Linked DNA regions of Homo sapiens. The protein of the gene in region 1 purifies or fractionates together with the protein of each later gene. This does not show direct contact. Each region holds a gene or a part of one and is shown in the gene's direction. Other genes may lie near its edges.

Region 1 (4,090 bases):
CCCCATTTCTCAACATAGCACACTTGTGCACTGAGAGGAGGGAGCATTATGGGAAAGTCCCTGCCTTCCACACCTCTCTCTAGTCCCTGTGGGACAGCCCTAGCCCCTGCTGTCATGAAGGGGCCAGGCATTGGTCACCTGTGGGACCTTCTCCCTCACTCCCCTCCCTCCTAGTTGGCTTTGTCTGTCAGGTGCAGTCTGGCGGGAGTCCAGGAGGCAGCAGCTCAGGACATGGTGCTGTGTGTGTGTGTGTGTGTGTGTGTGTGTGTGTGTGTCAGAGGTTCCAGAAAGTTCCAGATTTGGAATCAAACAGTCCTGAATTCAAATCCTTGTTTTTGCACTTATTGTCTGGAGAGCTTTGGATAAGGTATTGAATCTCTCTGAGCCTCAGTTTTTCATTTGTTCAAATGGCACTGATGATGTCTCCCTTACAAGATGGTTGTGAGGAGTAAATGTGATCAGCATGTAAAGTGTCTGGCGTGTAGTAGGCTCTTAATAAACACTGGCTGAATATGAATTGGAATGATACAAAGTCTGAGCTCTACTCTTTCTGCATTCACGCGTAAGTAACAGTTTCCTGGTGTTTGTCCTCCTGTGCCCACAGGTCCACTTTGCTTCCACGTGGCCATGTGCCCTTCCTAGCTGGATTGCCCAAGGCTGTTAGCATCTGCTTTTTACCTGAGATACTAATTCATCAGGTCAAAAAAAAAAAAAAAAAAAAAAAAAAAGTCTTGAGCACCAGCTGCAGGGAGCCTTCTGCTAGGTACAGGGGTCCTACAGAGAACAAAGTAGGCAGGACCAGTGCTTTCACAGAGCTGAGCTTTCAGGGGGAAGAGTCAGCGGACAAATAAAAATAATTTCACATAATGCATTAGAAAGACAAAAACAGGCTGGTCAGATGGTGACTGAGGGGGAAGGACTTCAGACTGGGTGTGAGGGAGGCCCTTTGAGCAGATGACATTTGAGCTGTGACTAGGAGAAAAGAGGCCATCTGGGGAAGACCATCCAAGCAGAGACCCTGAGCCTGGAACTCACGGGCAGAAAGGCTGGAACACAATGAGTAAGCGGAGAGGTAGTCAGGACCCCACTAGTACCAGTACAAGAAAGTGTTAGAAAAACAGAATGAAGCCCAGGGCAGGATACCCCGACTCCCATCCCCCGCGCCCGTCGCATTTCGGGAGGGTTGGGCCGGGCGGCGGGCGGGATCAGCGCAGGGCCCACCCCAGGGGCGGGGCCGGGGCGGGGCAGTACCTGGGGCCCCGGCCGGGGGCGGGGCTGCGGATGCTCCCACTTCCCCCGGCTCCAGCCGGCGCAGGCAGCGGCGGCAGCAGCAGGCGAGCCTCGGCCCCGCAAGGCCATGAAGGTGAAGAAGGGCGGCGGTGGGGCCGGGACGGCGACGGAGTCCGCTCCGGGGCCCTCGGGCCAGAGCGTGGCCCCCATACCACAGCCGCCTGCGGAATCCGAATCTGGGTCCGAGTCGGAGCCGGACGCAGGCCCAGGGCCCAGGCCGGGGCCGCTGCAGAGGAAGCAGCCGATCGGGCCGGAGGACGTGCTGGGGCTGCAGCGGATCACCGGTGGTGAGCACCCGCGAGGGAGCGCCGCCCGCGGGTGGGAAGGGGAGAGGGTGCGAGGGGCCCTCCCGGCGCGCCAAGCCCTGGCCCCCGCCCCCTTTCCCGCCTCCCCTCCCCCACCGAGTCCCCTCTCCTGTGTCCCCTGCTCTCCCTTCTGCCGCCAGGTCTGAGATCTCTGTGTACCCCCTTCCCTTGATCTCTCTCTGTGCCTCCTTCTTCTCCCTTTCGAGATTTATTCCTTCCTTTTCCAGGGGCCCGTCCCCTTTTCCCAGCGTGGAGGTACGTGCGGCAGCAGCTGCAACCATAGCCCTGTAGCTGTGGAGTCTCCAGAGCGCTTTGAGGCCCGTCCCTGCACTAATGAAGAGAGGGGCTGAGTGCAGCCTGTCCTCAGCCCCCACGCTGGAGGCTAGGTGGAGGCTGAGTTACTTGGGAGGCATTCAGACTCTTCATGTCTCCCCAACCATTAATACCCTCACCCTGATCCTCCAGGAAGACTTGGGCCATTTTCTTCCCCGGGAAAGAAACTGAGCAGGCAGCTTTAGTGTGTTGGCTGTGGTTCCTCTCATGGGGAGTGGCATAATGTCCCTCCAAGCCTGGACTAGCACCTGTCCTCTTCTGGGGGCTCTGTCATCAAGGGAGGCTTGGTCTCCACTGTGGTTAAGAGTTTCTGAGCTGGACTGCCTGGGTTGGAGTTCCAACTCTGCCATATAATTGTCTGTGTGACCTTGGGCAAGTAACCTCACCTCTCTGAGCATGTCTTTTCATCTGTAAAATGGGGATAATGATACCTTTCTCGTAAGATTATTGTGAAGATAAGTCCTCTGATTCTGTACAGTGCCTGGCATCTATGCATGCTGTGTACATTGGGCTCTTTGATCAGTAGTATTTTTGGGCCCTACAGGGCTGCTCATAGCTGCTGCCTGGAGTCAAACAACTTGGCTTTCAGGGCAGGGGAGGGGGTCATCATAGGCAGGGAACGAGGGCTAGGAAACCTCATAGCAGAGGCTTTGGATGAGCCTCAAAGGATGAAAGGTGCATGGAGAGACAGTGGCTCTCCACCTTGGCCACATTCACCAGCAACCTGCCCTGGCCCCCTTTGTGAGAATAACTGTTGGGGGGGGCCTCTCTGTGGGTATGGGGGGCATGTATTGGAGTGGACCTGAGCCCTAGAGCTTCCAAAGCAGCAGAACACCGGACTCCCAGACAGAGCTGTGGAGGGGAGACAGCCTTGAGCCTGTGCTCCTGGGTCCCTGGGGGCCAATTCCTCTCTCCTTACTGAGCTAGGCAGCAGCCATTCTTAGCTGGGCCCCCAGAGTACTGAGCTCCCTTGCCCAAGCAGGCATCAATGGAGAGAGGGAGGCTGGACCAGGCTGATGTTGAAGCCAGTTGGGCTACAATTTGCAATAGCAGCATTTAGGATTCAGCTTAGCTCTGGGGCAGAACTTTCTCAGACTGACTGAGTCCTGAGTAACTTTGGGGGTTTATTTTGCAACTAGAGGGAGCTTCCAGCTCATGTACCACCATTTGTCTCCTAATTTGGAGGAAATTCATAGCCCTTAGAGATGGGGCATCTGTGAAGGGTAAGTAGAGGAAAGGGCTTCATGAGAACCCCTTCCTGTGCAGGAATTGAGAACAGAGTTCCAGGGATTTCCACCCTGGCACCCCTTGCCTGGTCTCTTCTGACCCTAATCATGCAGGTCTGAGGTTTGCTGTTCCCAGATTACTGGGCCCTGAATCCAGCTTAGGAAGCTATTTGTGGCTGAGAGGAATAGAGCAGTTGTGTTCTGAGCCCTTGGCCACTCTGCCCCTTATTCTGACCTGACCCTGGGTCCCAGGCCTCATCCTTTCTAGAAGAGAAGGAGTGGCCGTGGTGTTCTGAGCCATAGATATCCGTGTTCCTCACTTCTTCTAAGGACAGAGAGGTTGATAGATTGAGTTTGCAGTAGAAGAGACTGAGGTTAGACTGCAGGAAGTTGTTCCCAAATGAGAGAGGCTCCAAAAGTTGGAGAATGGGAGAAGAGAAGGCCTTACAGGGATCTGGGAGTTGGGCACTGGGATCCTGCTCCCCACTCTGCCACCTCCGTTCCCTATGCTCTGTACCTTCTTTCTATGTCTTTATACTGGTGCTTACTTTCTGTGAAAATAGGGTGAATGGGGTGAGATAGGGGTTGCCCACTTCCATTCTCTCCCCACCCCACATGTGGGCTGTAGTAGACTCAGGGCCCTGCCTCTTCCCCAAGCTGTATAAAGTCCATGCTGGGCCCCAGGGTACCAGATGGCTGCCAGGAGGGCTTCCTGGAGGGGACAGCGTCAGGCTTGGGGAAGAAGCAGACCTGGGGAAGAGAAAATGACTTTATATTCACTTCCTGTTCCTGCCCCAGAGGAATAGGAGGTGGCCCAGGGGCCTGGAGGGTGATTTCCAGGCCTCTGTGGGCCACCAGGGGAGGATGTGATGCTGTGCAGGCTGACAGCACGAGTCCCTCCCTGCACCTCTCAGCTCTTTTTGTTGCCAGGGCCTC
Region 2 (3,500 bases), on another chromosome or scaffold:
ATTAAGATGACACTTAATTTTTTTATTATGCACATTAAAATTTTTTTTTAAAATCTAAACAGACTGATTCCCAAACCAGAAGGATTGGCCAAAATAGTAGAATAAGTACTGAGAGTAAAGAACTTAGAATAGGGCAAACACAATATTATGCAGACCACAGGAAAGTCTTTGTGGGAAAATGGTTGTTATTTTTGGAAGCCAGAAATACTATATATTTAAAAAATCAATTCTCTAGGAAAGGTCTGCAATTTTTACTACTCGTTTTTCTTATTTATTTGCTGTTTTCTATAGGTGAGAAGTCAGTATATAATAATAAATAAAATGATGTATCTGTCCTGAAGTAGTTCACTGTCTACTAGGGACCAAAATACAGTGTGGTAAGTGCTAATTATTCCAGTGTTCAGAATTTAATGCTGGTCTTGGAATTGAAGGATGAACAAGAGTTCATGCAGAAAAGGAGAAAAATGGCAACCCATGGCAGAGGACAAGCATGAAAAAAGGCATGGGAGTGCCAGAGGACAGTAGGTCTGGGACCAGCCAGCCAGGTGGTGTCCCCTGGAGCCTGTGCCTGTGGTACAGTCTGGGCAGAAGTGAAAGATGAGGTTGATGGGCAGGGCTGGCTTGTGAAGGGCCTTGGGTGCAAGGCCAATAATCGTGCTTGTTTTTTTTTATGCATTCAAGGGCTGATAGAGATTTTAAGGTGGAGGAATTAAATGATTATGTTTGAGTTTTAGGGCAGTAACTCCCAAAGCAGTGTGACACATGGGATGAGGGAGGGTGCAGGCACAGAGGAATAATGGAAGTGAGGCTACAAGAGGGTCAGATAGCAGAGGGAAAGGAGAAGAGGTGATACAAACAAGATGCATTAGAAAATGTAATTAATAAGATTTGTTTAATGACTGAACGGGGAAGGAAAGGAAAGGAAACTCTGAGGATAATGCTGCAGTCAAACTTGAGCCAAGGGAAGCGATGGCTGATAGTCCAAAGAGGTCATGGGGGGCTGAAGGAGGAAGAGAAGTCATTGCGTGTGTCATGATGGCCACATTGGTCACCCTGGGGACTGTAGTTTCAGTTGAGCAGGGTGAATGATAACCAAGTCAAAGTGGAAGTGAGCCAGGTGCAAGGAAGTGGAGAGAGTGATGTGGGTCTTTGGTTTTTATGCTGTTTGGCGGTAAGGAATGGAGGGATGTTGGTGGCTTTAAGAGGAGGCAAATTTTCAGAATATACTGTATTAGAAAAAGAATACCAAGGAAATTTGGAAAGTACAGGAAAGTATTTTTTAAGAGAAAAATTCAGTTATTATTCTACCACCAGAGACAATCATTATGAACATTTTACACTTTTCTTCAAGTGTTTTTTGGTTGTTTCTGCCCAGTTGTGAGTATGGTTGATTTTGTGTATTGAAGTTTGTTTTTCCTTTTGTCTTTTTTTAAAAATTATTTTTTGGCATGGAGGAGGCATGGATATTGCTGTAGGCTAAAAGACAGGAACCAGGCGAGTAAGAAAAGCTGATGGTGGTTTGGGGAGGGGGTTTCTCTCTGGTGGTGGAGAGAATAACGATGCATGTAAATCCTATGACAGGCTAGAGAACTCAAAACCTAGCTAGGTTAACCTTCAACACTTGAAAGCATGGTTGACAATGTCTAGAAACTTAATCACCATAAGAAAAAGCCTACATGTGTATCAGAAAACAAGCCTATTTTTCCCTCTCTTTCTGTCTCTTTGAAATTAAATCACAGTGCAGTAACACACTGAACAAAACAAACAAAACAGTGAATTCAAGGTAATGACATTCGGCCGCTTTCACAAACCTGCCAACATCAACCATGTTCTTATTTTAGTGTGGCAGATTCTCAGCTATTTGGCACAAATAGGCTGCGTTGGGATATTTTTGGTAGGAAATGGCAGAAGCCCAGTTTAAACTGGCCTAAACAAACAAACACAAAGGAATTTATTGGCATGTGGAGTGGAAAAGCTCCAGGGACTTGGCTGTAGTCACAGCTGGATCCAGGTGATCAAACAACAGGAAGAAATTCTCTTCTCTGCTTTCGTCTTCATTCTTAGGCAGCTTTCCTCAAGTGGTGACAAACAGGACCAGTTTATATCTTATCAGCTTCCTAATTCCTGTGGAAAAAAGCAGCTTCTTTTTCCTTGTAGTTTGATCAAAAGTCCTAGGGCTGGGCTCTCTTGGCCCGTTGGGGTCATGTTCCTATCTCGGAATCAGTCAGTGGGCCAGGAGAATGTGGGGTGCTCATTGGCCAGGCTGCAGTCATGTGCTCACCACTGGAGCCAATCAGTATCATCAGCCCCACCTTACCATATGGCCAAAGAGCAGAAGAGGGGTGATTCCCCACGGAAAAATTGGGATGCCGTTACCAAAAAAAAGGGGAGAAATTGTAAGTGGGCAAACCGAAACAATTGGAATTTAATTGAAAGCATTTTTTTTTGTAGATCAATTTTCGTGTTCTTAAAGAAGTCTTGATTTAAAGCTTAAGCAATATTTATAAGAATATTATGACTACGTTTCAAATAAGAAACAGTATTAAATAAGTTGACTCAAATATAATGTTTGCTGTTGAAAATAAAAAACCATAGCTACTCAATGTAAACAATGTAATTCAAATACTTCTTTCACTTAAAACATGTAAAGTGAATCTTACTGAGATTCTTTCCTTGGTAAAGCTATTTTATTATTATGGAAGGTAGCAAATACAGGGAAAAATATTTTGGAATGAAATGACATAAAACCCATTGGCAATTTGTTTTTGTTTTTGTGTTTGGAAAAAAGAAATGATAAATCTTTTATGTTGAGTTTCTTGGGATCCTTTATAAATTTACCATGTCTAATGCACCCATGTCAGCTGAGCCCTCTCTGCTCCTCATAGATACAGACCTTAGGGTATCTGATGGGCTCTTTTCTCATCCATGTAGTAGAAGGTAACGCTGTCTTCTGAGGGTGAAGAGGATGGGGTTGAAGTAGCATTGAAAAAGCCTGCATTTTGGAAGCAGAGGGACTTGTGTTTAAAATCCCCTTCACCATTTGCTAGCTGTGTTACATTGTGTCCTTAGTATAATTATCTGTGAAATTGGGATAATATAATAACTGTGCAGGGTGATCATCTTCATCATCATCATTCTTACAGTAGTAGCTAATCTTTACTGAGGACTGTGCACCATACACTGATTTCCAGCATTTTCTGTACGTTATCTCCTTCCATACCCATGATAATCTGATGGACAGAATAATGATGTTTCATTTTACAAGTGAGGAGGTGGGGAGCACAGAGAGCTGAAGTAGCTGCTGGAGGGACAGATTACAAATACAGTATATTTAATATCCTAGGAAAATACTTGGCATTATGCTTGTTGCCCCCGGTGAATGACAGCTAGAATTATTAGTTAGTTTAAAATGTTGTTGAAAAAATTTGGCAGGGCCTCTGACATGAATACTTGATGGCAGAAGACCCAGCATATTGAGGGCCTTGCTGTGGTTAGAAATC
Region 3 (3,500 bases), on another chromosome or scaffold:
TATGAAAGATTTACATTGTTGCTGCTTTATGGCTACAATGAGTCGATACCAAAAATTAATTGCATAATAATAGCATCACACGTTGTAAAGAGCTTTGCAGCATGTAAAGCATTCACCTACCTCATTTCATTTGATCCATCTAACAACTGTATTAGGGAGGAAGGGGGGTTATTACGGTCCACATTTTAGAGATTGATATTTATGCAGGGTCAAGAGGCAGAGTTCTTGGCAAGGCCAGAGCTAGGAACTATGGCCTGTGCTTTTGATCCTAGCCTAAGCATTATTTTTTTTCCATAGAGTACTGTGAATCGGTTGAACACATGAATAGGACTAGGATGGTGAAACCAATACTTATTACCTTACTTTTTCTTGTCTCTTTATTTAGCCCAGTTAGGTACTCCTAGTCTCTAGGTAGAATTTAAGTAACAGAGTACAGAGAAATACACATGATAAAATGTTTGAGGATGCATTTAGGTGAACAAACTCAACATCAATTGAATTAATTAATTATTGGGTCCTATATAACCTATACTTGATGTTACTACCTCCTGCTAGTTTTATTCTCTTTTGCAGTTAGAATTGATATCATGTTATAAGTTGTGTTACTTGTTAAATTAAAGGTTTATTTTTGTATTTCATGTTTAGTACCTGGAGTAGAACAGAAAAATTATTATGTCTGTGTTCCCTTGGGACTCATTGGAAATTGTACAGTGACATCTTCTGGGATTTAGTCTGGTAAGTTATATTTTGCTTTTTCCGTTCGTTAACAGTTGTATGAACACAATACCATAATGTGTTTTTTAAAGACTACATAAATAAACAAGTGAATGTGAAATGTCAGTTAATCAAGTGAATGTGAAATGTTGGTGTATTATTGCAAATATGTATACTATAATTACAAATTTTTAATGGTGAGAAATGAACTTATTGTTGCAATATGCAAACATTATTTTATTTGAAATGTTTGGCTAAGTTTTCCTTCCTTTAAATTTCTTCAACGTAAAGATCTTATGAAATAATATTTCAAAGTATAGTAGTTAGAGGTAACTGTTCCAATTTGGGGCAAATTTTAGTAAAAACATTAATCTCCAAACATTGCTGAAATAATTTGCAAAAAATTCTGGTTATATATTATCATACATAAAGAATGAGCCAACAGGTGTCTGAAAGGAGCATTATTTTCACTTAGTCGTACAGCAGTTCACTGAAAATGTGACATTCTTTTTATCACACCCTGAATTTAAACGGTTAAAAATATGCAATGCTGTTTTCTTCCTTTAGTTGTCTTTTTTCAGTGTGTCATCTGTGTATCTTTGCTGACATAGTTGTCCATGTGTCTCGAAGTCTTTGAAGGGAAAAAAGAAATTCATAATGAGCTATGGTAGCTCTTTAGCATCCTTAAGACTATATTAGTGTGACTTCATGCTTTGGTGTGTCATTCTACTTGGCCATTATCTTTGTGCATCCTTGCCTTGAATTATGTAAAGAGATCATAATCCTTAGAGAAAGCGGAGTTTCATAATAAGTGATTTCTAAATTTCTAGTCAGCAGCAGAATGATTCAAAGGAATGGTAGGGAAAAACAAATACTTTAATCTCATTAAGTAGATAAAACCTATTACATTTATGAAAATGCATTTTCGAACATTGGAAAATTGGAAACGTTACTAAAATTTTCAGTTTTGAGGAAAAGAGTAAGAAGTTTGAAAACCATAGTACAAAGTACTTGGAGAGGATATTGAATAAAAAACAATGTGGCCTGGTCACTGACTCAGCTAATAGAAATAAAGCACAAAACTAGAGCAATGGGTAGAAACTACAGGAATGTATGTGTATCTATGTCTATCCATCTATCTCTGTATATACCTATATTTATACAGTTGTCCCTTGGCATCCTTGGGGGATTGGTTCCAGGACTTCCCCCAGGTACCAAAATCTGATGATACGTAAGTCTCTGATACAAAAATGGTATAGTATTTGCCTATAACCTATGCACATCCTCTTGTATACTTTAAATAATCTGTAGATTACTTATAATACCTATTACAATGTAAATGTTACATAAATAGTGGCTGTACTGTATTATTTAGGGAATAATGACAAGAAAACAGTCTATACATATTCAGTGTAGATGTAATTTTTTGCTTTTTCAAATATTTTCTCTCTGTGATTGGTTGAATCCATGGATGCAGAACCCGTGGAGACAGGGTTGACTGTATATATGCATGTACATACAGATATATGTGTAAATAAATCGACATTCTAGCAGAGCTGCACAAGGTGAAATGAGTCATCTTGGGAGGCAGTGAGTTGCCTGTCACTGAAGGTGTTCAAACATACACTGGGAAACTATTAAGATTCCTTTTGATTCCAAAATTATACGGTACAAAAAAATTTAAAATTTGGAGGACCATCTGAAACGTGGAAATATGTGACAAAGAGTTCATTTATTTTTAATGTCAGGTTTATTATAACTTAGTAAAATCCGTCCTTTTAAAGTGTACGGTTTGATGCATTTTGACAAATGTATCCAGTTATGTAATGACCACTACAGTCAACAAATAGAACATTTTCATCACCCCCCAAAATTCCCTTTTTCCCCTTTGTAGTTATCCCCTCTCCCCACCCTAGGCCTTGGCAATTAATGATTGATTCTGGCAAATAGTTTTGCCTTTTCCAGAATGCCACGTAAGTAGAAACATGTAGTATATAGGTGTAATGTCTGCTTCTTTCACTTAATGTTTCCCCAGATTGTTCCACTTCATTGCTGAGTGGTATCCATTGTAGGGATGGACTGCAGTTTGTTTATCTCTTTCCCTGTTGATGGATATTTGGATTGTTTCCAGTTTCGGTGTTTGTGAATGAAGCTGTCATAAATATTCACATTCAGGTGTTTGTATGGACGTGTATTTTCATTTTTCTTGGGTTAGATATCTATGAGTATGGTGGCTGTGTTGTTTAATGAACATTTATTCAATTTTATAAGTAAATGCCAAACTGTTCTCTAACGTAGCTGCACCTGACAAAGGCTTCTAAGTAGCTAAAATAACTACGCCAAAGTGTGTGCAGATGAAGGAGCCCGATTCTCATTCAGCACAGATTTATTTTTATTTTATATGCAGTTTTAACACGTTTGGTTAGCAGATATTTCCAGCCCACAGAGGATTAGGAACAGTAAATTAGAAGGCCTAGGGGTAGGTTGTTAGCAATTATAAGCAGCCAAAAATTATGTTCACCAACATGACTATACAGTAATTACTGATTAAAAACAAAGGAGGGACTTAAAAGAGTGAAACTCTTCTATCTGATAAGTTCTATCTGACAAGTTCCCAAACCTATATGCATATTAGAATCACCTGGGAATCTTTTACAACTTGCAGAACCCAGGCTACACCCCAGATCAGTTAAATCACAAATCTGGGATGGAAAACAGACATCAGCAGTTTTTGAAGCTCCTTGCATGATTCTGGTGTAGACAAGTTTGGGAACCACATGCTAGAA
Region 4 (3,500 bases), on another chromosome or scaffold:
ACTGCCTGAGGAGTCTGTCCTTAACACCCTGTCCTCTCTCTCAGGGAAGCGGCAGCCGACACAGCGTCTGGCAGAGGGCGCTGTGGAGCCTGGAGCGATACTTCTACCTGATCCTGTTTAACTACTACCTTCATGAGCAGGTGGGGCCTGGGAGGAGCAGACCCACGTCCCCTCCTCCTGGGCCTCTCCCAGCCTCCCCACCGCAGTGACTGGCTTGCTGTGGAGGGAGACCCCCCAAGGAACCGGGGAGGGAAGGGAGGCCAGGAGAGACCCAGATTCGGGAGTAGTCCCTGAGCAGCTGGGCATAGGGAGGCCCCACCTCTTTCCACCGGGCCCTTGTCTCTGTCCTTAACCAGGACACCAGACGTCCAGGTCTTCTCTCAGCCACTCCCTTGTCCCTGCTCTGGGCCATGTTGGATATCTTTTGGGGCTTCCCCTGCCATGGTGTGGGCAGGGAGGGTTCAGGATGGCCCTGTGCCCCTGAATTCCTCGTCTCTCTGCCTCGGGCTGCAGTACCCGCTGGCCTTTGCCCTCAGTTTCAGCCGCTGGCTGTGTGCCCACCCTGAGCTGTACCGCCTGCCCGTGACGCTGAGCTCAGCAGGCCCTGTGGCTCCGAGGGACCTCATCGCCAGGGGCTCCCTAGTGAGTATGACTGGCAGTCGGAGAAGTGGGCATGGCTGTGTACTGGCCCTGGCCCCTAAACACTGGATTCCTGTAGGGTTGGGGTAAGCATTGCCCTTGCAGGAGGTGAAGAAGAGAGGCTGTGGGTGTTGGGATCCTCTTGTGAACAGAATGGGGTCATGCTTAGGCCCCAGCAAGCATTTGCAGCTTTGGCAGCTGTTCTGGTACCTTCTCCTCAGTCTCAAACCCAAGAGCTCTGGGCAGGGTTCTATGATCTTTGCCTCCAGCTTCTTCTCTTTGAGCCTCAGCTTCCTGGTCCAGAGAGTGGGCACCATTGCACTTCTTCTTGCCAGGGCCGGGGGAAGCTCCAAGTGTGCAGGAGTGCTTTGTAAACTGTGAAGCTCGGGTTCCACCCCACCCCCCGTCTGCCTTGGGCCAGGTCCTGACCCTTTCTGCGGCTACAGTCGGCTGCTGTGGGTCCCAGGCTTGGTGCTCTCCCCACAGCGGGAGGACGATCTGGTCTCCCCGGACGCGCTCAGCACTGTCAGAGAGATGGATGTGGCCAACTTCCGGCGGGTGCCCCGCATGCCCATCTACGGCACGGCCCAGCCCAGCGCCAAGGTGACCGGCCCTCAGGGCCTGGGTCCCCCAGTGGGTTTGGGGAGGGAGGGCTGAGCACTCACTGCCGGCCCTCCTGTGCCCAGGCCCTGGGGAGCATCCTGGCCTACCTGACGGACGCCAAGAGGAGGCTGCGGAAGGTTGTCTGGGTGAGCCTTCGGGAGGAGGCCGTGTTGGAGTGTGACGGGCACACCTACAGCCTGCGGTGGCCTGGGCCCCCTGTGGCTCCTGACCAGCTGGAGGTGAGGCCCCCTGCCCTCTAGGCACCCCTGCCTCCGAGGCTTCTGGGGAGTGGCCTGGGAGGGTCTTCAGAAGGCCTCACACTCCCGCAGACAGATGGAGAATCTGAGGCCCCGGGAGGAGCAGTGTCAGGGAGTGGCCAACTCAGGATTCCCACTAAAGTGCTCTGCTAACCTGCTTGGCTTTGGGGGGTGGCTGTGACCCCTGAGGCTTGGGGGGGTCAGGGATGGGACTGGAAGCCAGGGCCAGGCCTGGCCATGGCAGGCTGTGGCCTTTCAGGGCTAGCCTAGAGCCTGCCCCAGTGGCCTGTGTCCTCCCTCCTGCCCTTGCCCAGACCCTGGAGGCCCAGCTGAAGGCCCATCTAAGCGAGCCTCCCCCAGGCAAGGAGGGCCCCCTGACCTACAGGTTCCAGACCTGCCTTACCATGCAGGAGGTCTTCAGCCAGCACCGCAGGGCCTGTCCTGGCCTCACCTACCACCGCATCCCCATGCCGGACTTCTGTGCCCCCCGAGAGGAGGTGAGGGTGCTGCTCAGGCTGAGGCCTCTGGGGAGGGACAGGAGGCCTCCCTGTCTCCCCTCTGGTCTGGGCTCTGGGAGAATGAAACGACCCCAGCTTCTCTACGGGGCCCGGGAATGGTCTCACGAGGTTTTCCGATTTGGCCCAAGTGGTTTATTCACATTCCTTCCAAGCTTTGTGTGTGTGTACGTGTGTTTATTATGTGTTATAGGGTATATGTGTGTGTATTGTTATAGGTGTGTGTGTATTGGAGTGTGTATTCTGTTACGTATGTGCATATGTGTTATAAGATGTGTGTACATGTGTTTATTATGTTGTAGGGTGTATGTGTGTGTATTGTGTTATGGGTGTGTGTTATAGGTGTGTGTGTGTTATCGGGGTGTGTGTGTATTCTGTTACAGGTGTGTGTGTGTATTTGTTATAAGGTGTGTGTGTGTGTTGAGGGTGAACATGTCCAGGGTGTCCGTGGTGTGTGTGTCTCAGTTGGGGGACTGTGTATGGAGTGTGTGGGTGGTGTGTGGAATGTGTGTGTGTGTGCATGTCTTTTTATGGAGTTTGTGATGTCTCCCTTGTCTGTATTGGGGGCTGTGTGTGGAAAACCATCTTTAGGGGAGTGGTGTGGTGTGTGGTAGGGTTTGTGGAGGGGTCGTTAGGAATGTGTGTGTGTGGCATCTGTAGGTCTGTGACTGTGGGTGTCTGTATAGTGTGTGTGTTTACCGGACGTGGATCCCTGTGTGGTGCGTGTGTCTGGCGTGTGTTGTAGGTGAGCCACCGTGTGCGTGGTGCGTGTGTTGTAGGTGGGTCGCTGTGTGCTGTGTAACTGGCAATGGGGTCTGTTACCCTGCCTGAGCCCCTCCTGGCGCATCTCTTCGCGGCTCTCACTGCCTGCGGTCTGCTGCCTCCTGGTGGCCTTGTGCTGCAGGGCTCTTCTGAGGTCAGGCCCCCGTCCATGGTGGGACCAGGGCTGGGTCCAGCTCAGGTGGGTGGCAGGGCCAGCAGTCTATGTGCAGCCCAGGGGCGCAGTACACAGGGGTGACATACAGGTGCATGTCCTGCCTGATGGAGGGTGGGTACCTTGAGCCCCAGGTGCATGCTGTGTTGGCTCACACATCCTGTCCAGGTGCTTGGTGTGAGGGTGATTACGACTGCACAGGTGCAGCTGTTTACACGCACATGGTCTCATGCACCCCGGTGAGTTTTGTTTGTGTGTGCAAGCTTGGGAGCCTGACAATTTCTGGCCCGAGGACAGTGGCTGGGGCTGCCATGTGGATGGGGACCCTGTTGGGGTTTGTGCATCCAAGAGACGCCCGCTGACCCAGACCTTGCTTTTCTCGTCCAGGACTTTGACCAGCTGCTGGAGGCCCTGCGGGCCGCCCTCTCCAAGGACCCAGGCACTGGCTTCGTGTTCAGCTGCCTCAGCGGCCAGGGCCGTACCACAACTGCGATGGTGGTGGCTGTCCTGGCCTTCTGGCACATCCAAGTACGTGTGGCCTCTCAAGTGAGA

The links. Proteins that work in one complex are often made in the same cells at the same time.
Region 2: the proteins of UNC119 (region 1) and C12orf75 purify together in Homo sapiens (affinity purification with mass spectrometry; 4 studies listed by BioGRID and IntAct, with this or other methods). This does not show direct contact.
Region 3: the proteins of UNC119 (region 1) and MACIR purify together in Homo sapiens (affinity purification with mass spectrometry; 4 studies listed by BioGRID and IntAct, with this or other methods). This does not show direct contact.
Region 4: the proteins of UNC119 (region 1) and PALD1 purify together in Homo sapiens (affinity purification with mass spectrometry; 4 studies listed by BioGRID and IntAct, with this or other methods). This does not show direct contact.

Annotation. Positions count from the first base shown.
Region 1 is NC_000017.11:28,549,825-28,553,914, reverse strand, and holds the start of UNC119 (protein unc-119 homolog A), read left to right. Parts: upstream 1-1,290; 5' UTR 1,291-1,357; coding exon 1,358-1,577; intron 1,578-1,822; exon of another isoform or gene 1,823-1,850; intron 1,851-4,090. UniProt on the Homo sapiens protein: Involved in synaptic functions in photoreceptor cells, the signal transduction in immune cells as a Src family kinase activator, endosome recycling, the uptake of bacteria and endocytosis, protein trafficking in sensory neurons and as lipid-binding chaperone with specificity for a diverse subset of myristoylated proteins.
Region 2 is NC_000012.12:105,351,191-105,354,690, forward strand, and holds part of C12orf75 (overexpressed in colon carcinoma 1 protein), read left to right. Parts: intron 1-3,500.
Region 3 is NC_000005.10:103,265,263-103,268,762, forward strand, and holds part of MACIR (macrophage immunometabolism regulator), read left to right. Parts: intron 1-645; 5' UTR 646-735; intron 736-3,500. UniProt on the Homo sapiens protein: Regulates the macrophage function, by enhancing the resolution of inflammation and wound repair functions mediated by M2 macrophages. The regulation of macrophage function is, due at least in part, to its ability to inhibit glycolysis.
Region 4 is NC_000010.11:70,537,767-70,541,266, forward strand, and holds part of PALD1 (paladin), read left to right. Parts: intron 1-44; coding exon 45-140; intron 141-513; coding exon 514-642; intron 643-1,125; coding exon 1,126-1,242; intron 1,243-1,325; coding exon 1,326-1,481; intron 1,482-1,813; coding exon 1,814-1,996; intron 1,997-3,335; coding exon 3,336-3,476; intron 3,477-3,500.